Homo sapiens: one gene and its partner. The protein of the gene in region 2 interacts with the protein of the main gene of each other region in a pairwise test. Each region holds a gene or a part of one and is shown on either strand. Other genes may lie near its edges.

Evidence for each region. The genes of interacting proteins can lie anywhere in the genome.
Region 1: the proteins of RRP15 (region 2) and CLN8 interact in a two-hybrid assay, tested with the Homo sapiens proteins (one study listed by BioGRID).

The regions. Positions count from the first base shown.
Region 1 is NC_000008.11:1,780,778-1,784,532, reverse strand, and holds part of CLN8 (protein CLN8), read right to left. Parts: 3' UTR 1-3,755. UniProt on the Homo sapiens protein: Could play a role in cell proliferation during neuronal differentiation and in protection against cell death.
Region 2 is NC_000001.11:218,330,282-218,334,036, forward strand, and holds part of RRP15 (RRP15-like protein), read left to right. Parts: intron 1-666; coding exon 667-810; 3' UTR 811-3,755.

The DNA.
Region 1 (3,755 bases), on a different chromosome or scaffold from region 2:
CTCCAGAATTCACATGACATTGTAATTGTCATTGCGGTGGTATTAAGAGGTGGGGCCCCCTACTCTTGCAAATGGCTTAATGCCTCATAAAAAGGCAGCGGAGAACTAGCTGAGGCCTGTTGACCTTCCATCCCCTCCACCACGTGAGGATGCAGTGTTCCCAGCAGAAACTAATCAGCCCACACCTTTATCTTGGACTTCCAGCCTCCAGAACTGTGAGAAATGATGTCCGTTCTTTTTTTTTTTTTGAGATGGAGTCTCACTGTGTCACCCAGGCTGGAGTGCAATGGCGTGATCTCGGCTCACTGCAATCTCTGCCTCCCAGGTTCAAGCAATTCTTCTACCTTAGCCTCCCAAGTAGCTGGGACCACAGGCATGCACCACCACCCCCAGCTAGTTTTGTTTTTTTAGTAGAGATGGGGTTTCACCATGTTGGCCAGGCTGGTTTCAAACTCCTGACCTCAAATGATCCACCCGCCTCGGCCTCCCAAAGTGCTGGGATTACAGGCGTGAGTCACCGTGCCTGGCCTGAATGTCTGTTCTTTATAAACTACCCAGTCTTAGGTGTTTTGTCACAGCGGCCCATACTGCCTGAACCACGACTTTCTGCGCTAAATGCCGTGTTGAAGAGCCCAGCTCTGGCGCCGGAGGCTGCGCCCAAGGCAGGCACGGCTGTTCACGAGTTGCGTCACCTTGGGCACGTCATCACCTCTCTGAGCCCCGAAGCTCCTCGACAGAAGTGGAATCAACAGTGCCCATTTCATTCAAGTTGTCCGGGCGAAGAAAATGGAAAATCATGTCCCTTAAGCGCAATACCTGGTAAAAAATCTCACACTGAACTGCGGCCATGACAACTCCAGCATCACCCAAGGAGCCTGGACACCGAGAAGGGCAGAAGCCTGTGCGGCCCAGCCCCCGCAGCGCGGCGAGGAGGCTGCACCAACCCTTGGTCTTCAGTCACTCAACCTCCCTGGCCCATTCTGTTTCCCAACTTAAGAAACAAAACAAAACATAGGTATAGAGAAGGATTTCACTATCGAAAGAGAAAGCGCACTGACAAGTGATCACACTGAAGCCAAGCTGGAGAGCCACATCCTGGCTAAACGCAGGGCCATTTTCTATCCGGGTCACCTGCCATCAGGTGGAGTTAAGGCCGATATTGCCCAATCGTCCTAGTTTTCAAGCAGTTCCAGAATTCCTGTTATGTGAACTCACCTCGTTTAACACTTGCTGTAACTCTCAATAGAGGATGTGAAGCACGCAGCACACACGTGCAGCTGAATGCTGGCCAATGTGGGCCGCTGAGTGGGCCGGGCCCAGGCTCACACCAACCTGGCACCAAGAAGTCAGAGCTCATGAATGTCGCTTGTACCATGCTCCACTATAGCTACATCCCCTCACACTGCCGGTCAGGGAGACTGAGGCCAGTGAGGACCATGGGAAAGTGCTGTGCCATCTGGAAGGTGTACGCATCATTAACATTTCACGAAGCCTTTTCCACCCCTAAACCCCCAACTTCAGGCTCTGCACTGAGGGGTCCCCGGACCAATGTGTGGGTGACACTGGACGGAGCGGGTGAGCCTGTGCTTCTCTACAGCACCTCCATCTCTATGCATCCACACACGCGTATGAAGATACAGGAGGTAAAGTGTGGACCCCTGGGAAGGTCAAAGTCCTAGTGGAGGTGAGATAAAAATTAGGCTGTCCACTTCCAACTCCAAATCGAATTCTGAACACATGATGAATTTATCATTATATTTTCTATCTCCAAGATAAAGCATTCACAGCAATATGAATAGGTTAGTTTATTTTGAGAGAGAGGAAGACATCATTTGGGTTCTGTAAACATCAGTCACTTTATTATGCCTCTGTCTGGCTGAAAAACACCAGCTCCTGCTGACTCCACAAGGGCACGGCTGCAGAGAGTGCTGCCTGCCAGGTGTGAGGTTTCCAGTTAAAAGTTTCAGCAGGGACACCATTTGCTGGATGTGTTTAAGATTAAAATTGCTTCGTAAAATGTGATAAATAGGTTACTATACACCTTGGTCAATATAGTTAAAGCACCAGCAATCAAAATACACCGCTCCGGGCCGGGTGAAGTGGCTCACGCCCGTAATCCCAGAACTTTGGGAGGCCGAGGTGGGCAGATCACTTTTAGTCAGGAGTCAGAGACCAGCCTGGCCAACATGGTGAAACCCTGTCTCTACTAAAAATACAAAAAATCAGCCAGGCATGGTAGAGGTACCTGTAATCCCAGCTACTTGAAAGGGTGAGGCAGGAGAATCCCTGGAACCCGGGAGGTGGAGGTTGCAGTGAGCCGAGATCACACCACTGGACTCCAGCCTGGGAGCCAAAGCCAGGCTCCGTCTCAAAAAAACGAAAACAAAAACTAAACAAAAACAAAACACTGTTCCGAGAGTTCCATAAAACATAAGGAACGTAAGTCACACATGATTCTCACGAGCAGCCGACGTTTTCCACGTACATTTCAAAGGTGCTTGTGATAAAAAATAAACTTTGAATTTTAATTGCACGTTTATATCAAAACACTCACACACACACACACACACACACACACAATTCTGTATGTCTGTTAACAACATTGCTAAATTGCTGTGTAACTTCTACCTGGGTATAAAACAGTAGAACAATGTACCTTGGGACTCATCATCAGGCAGCTCATTGCCAGGGGCTGCTGCAGGACCACTCTAGGGACCCCAGGACCCTGCAGTCGAGCATCTCTGAGGGGTCCAGGTCCACCCTACAGCTCAGGGAGAAAATGACATCACTACTTGTCTTGAAATCTACAGAGGAACACCAACCACAGAATTAGGGTCTAGATTGGGTGCCTGTAGGTAACTCAGTCAATTAAAAACAGCTCTGAAACCCAGACAACCTGATTATGAAATCCTTACCTTATTTTGTCAAATGAGCAACACAGTATGAATAATAACTTCTCATTTTAAAACAGGTACCATGATTTAAAAAAAAAAAAAACTTGCAAGATTTCATCTTTACCAGCCCACGCTCTGGTTGGTGGGGGTTAAACTCCAAGGCGTCTCTGCTGCTACAGGAGTCACTACCCCTCAGCGTTGTCTTTGTACCACTTGCCACCAGATGGCACTGCCGTACACTTCGGTCTAGAATTTTTTTTTTTTTTTTTTTTTGAGAGAGAGTCTTGCTCTGTCACCCAGGCTGGAGTGCTGGAGTGCAGTGGTGCGATCTCAGCTCACTGCAACCTCCGCCTCCCGGGTTCAGGCAATTCTCCTGCCTTGGCCTCCCAAATAGCTGGGATTACAGGTGTGTGCCACGACACCCGGCTAATTTTTGTAATTTTAGTAGAGATGGGGTTTCACCATCTTGACCAGGCTGGTCTCGAACTCCTGGCCTCAAGTGATCCACCTGCCTCGGCCTCCCAACGTGCTGGGATTACGTCGGGTGTGAGCCACCCCACCCAGCTTAGAATTTCATACGCTGGGAAGCTTTAATAAGGAACAAATCATGTTATTTTCTATCTTAGCCCAATTCTCTCCAACTGAAAAGAATGTGACTTCTGAATAAGACACACGGCATATGAGTGTGCAGCTGGAAAGAGTCAACGCTGACCCACCCGCCCTGTGGGAGGCACTTCACTATGAAGCCATTTCCAGCATTCAAAGCCACCCCACTCCTCAACAGGTGTGACGCCCCGATGCCTGGACACCATGGACTCCTCTCCTAGATGCTTGACACGGTCCGGCGCGGCTAAACTGACA
Region 2 (3,755 bases):
ATCCTGTGACTAAATGAAACGAATTGACTACCTATTATGTTTATTGCCTGCTTCATTTATTTATAATTTCAACATACGATTAGTCTTTGATTACATGATTGGGTCAGGCAGTGAGCTCATAACCTAAATAAAGAACATTTGGTTCAAATTTTTATAAAAACATTAAGTGAGATGGCATCTTAAAAAACCTAGCATAGTACCAATGTAGTTTCTTTTTCCCACTTTTAATTTACTTTGGGTTAAATGCCTTTGTTAAATTGTCAGTTGCGGTGAAATAATTTGCCCAAAATTTTCTAGTAAATTATCACTGAAGGTTAAATAGTATTGTAAGTCTGTTTTTTGTTGTCAGAAGTGCTTAAAAAATTAATACCAAACCTAGATTTATATTTTTTCCCTCACTTCAAAAAAATTTTTTTATTTTGCTTTCATGTTTCTTTTATGGAGTCCATACAATATTTTATTAATGTTTAGTTCTTTATTATACATTTGTACATATATAATCATAGTATAATCATAGTGTATAAAGTAAGTCGATTTATAATTTCTCTTGGTTTTACCCCTATTTTAAAAACTAAGCATTGAAAAGTTTGTTTTGTAGCTTGTACCTTTTTGTTTCCTTATGATGGAATTGACTTTTGAATATTTTGATTCTATAATTTTCCTTAGACTGAAGTGAAATCAGAAGAAGGCCCAGGTTGGACGATCCTACGTGATGATTTCATGATGGGAGCATCTATGAAAGACTGGGACAAGGAAAGTGATGGGCCAGATGACAGCAGACCAGAATCTGCAAGTGACTCTGATACATAAAGCATCATAGGAAATACAATTGCAGTCGTTTTATTTTTTCTAGAAAAATATGTCATCCTCTGATAGTTGGGGAATTATAAGGATACCATTTGTAAGAAAGCCAAAAGACTTTTGCCAGATTTCATATTTCCCCTTTTCATGTACACTTTATATATACTTCATTAAAATTATATTTTAAACCCTTGTATAATTTTAAGCATTGTTCCTCAGAACATTTGTAAAAGGATATATTTCTGCTTGACCAGCGAGATGTGCATTTTGCCAGGATCATATTGGTCATGTCTATTGGTGTATTATTTCAGTATCACCAATGTTTTCAGAAATACAGTACTAATTCATCATTAAACTCTTTGAAGTTAATATTTTTCTGCCTTCTAACTTATAGACTCAACTATGTATCTGTAGTTTTTGGGAATGGTTGGTGTTTTTTGCTTTGTGTTGGGAAGTTATTGAGAAAACCTATATAATAAAATTTAAAATTATAGTTTTTCAGATTTTGGGTCGTGATTTTAGTTTTAGGTAATCTGGAAGATATGATTTAAGAAACAACAGATTTCAACTTTTTTTTTTTTTTTTTTTTTTTTTTTTTTTTTTTTTTTGAGACGGAGTCTTGCTCTGTGGCCCCGGATGGAATGCAGTGGCGTGATCTCGGCTCACTGCAAGCACCGCCTCCCAGGTTCACGCCATTCTCCCACCTCAACCTCTCAAGTAGCTGGGACTACAGGTGCCTGCCACCACGCCCAGCTAATTTTTTGTTTTTGTATTTTTAGTAGAGACGGGGTTTCACCATGTTAGCCAGGATGGTCTCAATCTCCTGACCTCGTGATCCACCCGCCTCGGCCTCCCAAAGTGCTGGGATTACAGGCGTGAGCCACTGCGCCCGGCCCAGATTTCAACTTTTATTTTATTTCCTTTCATTTATTAAATAATATAAATAATGACAGATTTATTTTAGGTGTTAGCCTATTTTTGCATGAGAGATTTACAGAGGTGGAAATTCTCATGCTTAACTTATGCAATGAGACAATTTCTCAGGAAGCAAGTTTGACATGCTTTAGTCTCTCTCTTCTTTTTTTTCCTCCCAAATATTTGAGTTAGCTTAAATTCTTTTTTATGGACTGCCCAACCAGTGAATTGATGCACTTAGACAACAAGTAATCTGCAGCAGAATATTGCATCCAATTTGAGACTTGATTCCATATTATTGCCTTAAAGGCTATTAAATTGGGTGACTTTTAGTATCCAGCTGTTAAAAAGAGGAAAGACTGTTTAATATCATTCCAAAATTTTTGTGAAATGTGGCCCAAGATCTAAAGTTTTTAAGGGAATTATTTTTAATAAATATGATCTGTCCCTTTTTGAAAAGGATCCATCCCTTTTCATAATAAAAATAATTCCCTCCTACCACCCAGTTGCACATACTTGCATCTGTTATGTATTGAAGGATAATCCCCCCCAAAAAAACTATCCAAGAGCAGAGATGTTTATATTTTGAAACCCATTTGAGTGTTACAGTATTATATGACTAAAGCTGAATCAGTCTGTGGCCTGGTATTTGTTATCATAAAGGAAGATGTACACCTAAGGTATCAAGTGGTTAAAACAGCAAAGTACAAGATGCATTTTTGTATTTATTCTAACTTTTGAACATTAGTGTCTTTCAGTATAAATAAATGTGAACAAATATACCTCAGTAGTAATACAGGAGAACTAAATATCCTGCTATAACTTAATACAGATACATATTTCAATATGACTTAACAAACACACAATTTTGAAAAAAAAAAAAAAAAAGTGCAGCAACTTAAACACATTTTTCTCCCCAGAACTAAGATTACACTTAATTTAATTTAATGTGTTTCTGCGTTATACTAGAGTTTTGCAGGAATTTTTCTGAATAGTACATTCACATGATAGATACGGATAAATACCTTATTTACTAAAATGTTTTGAAACATATTTTATAGTCCCTCATTTGATTTGAAAAAATTTGACAAGATCTTCACATTGAAAGTAAGGACGAGAATATTTGCAGATTTCCTTCGTTCCAAAATTATTTTATTCCAAAGAAAAATTGAGTTGCCACTATCAGGAAAAAAAAAATGTATCACTTCTGTTAGAAGGCTATGAAGTATATATAAATTATATGACAATTTTTATCATATAGATTTGATATCTTCTATGTATTCGTATTTTTGCATCTTGGGTATTAAGCAAAATACCATATGTATAAATATGAAACCAGGAATGTGCATATTTTAGAAACTAATTGTGTATCTTAAGTGAATGTTTTGAGTAGTTCTGTCACCCCTATTCTAAATATTTTACCTACAACATTTAAATTATTCTGATATCAATCAGATAAATAATCCGAGTGTATTTCATCTTTCTACATTGTCTTTGTGGTTTTTGTTTGTTTGTTTTTGAGACGGTCTCACACTGTCACCCAGGCTGGAGTGCAGTGGTGCAATCTCAGCTCACTGCAACCTCCACCTCCCAGGTTCCAGCTATCCTCCCACCTCAGCCTCCCAAGTAGCTAGGACTACAGGTGTGCACCACCATGCCCAGCTAATTTTTTGTCTTTTTGATGTAGATGGGGTTACCCCATGTTGCCCAGGCTGGTTGTGAACTCCTGAGCTCAAGGGATCCCCCCGCCTCTTGCCTCCCAAAGTGCTTGGATTACAGGTGTGAGCCACCATACCACCTGTCTTTGAATTTTTTAACGAGGGGAAAGAAAACTGCAATTCCTGCCTCCCCATTTATTTAAACATAACACCTAGGATTTTATTTTTGGTAACTACTTAGAATAATATAGTAGGTTACTTATCTTCGGTTAGAAAGAACTATGGAAAATAGGAACCAATAATTTGGAAGTATTATTTCCTTATTTCATATATAGAAATAATTATCTTATTTCCTTATTTCATATATAGAATATTCTAGAT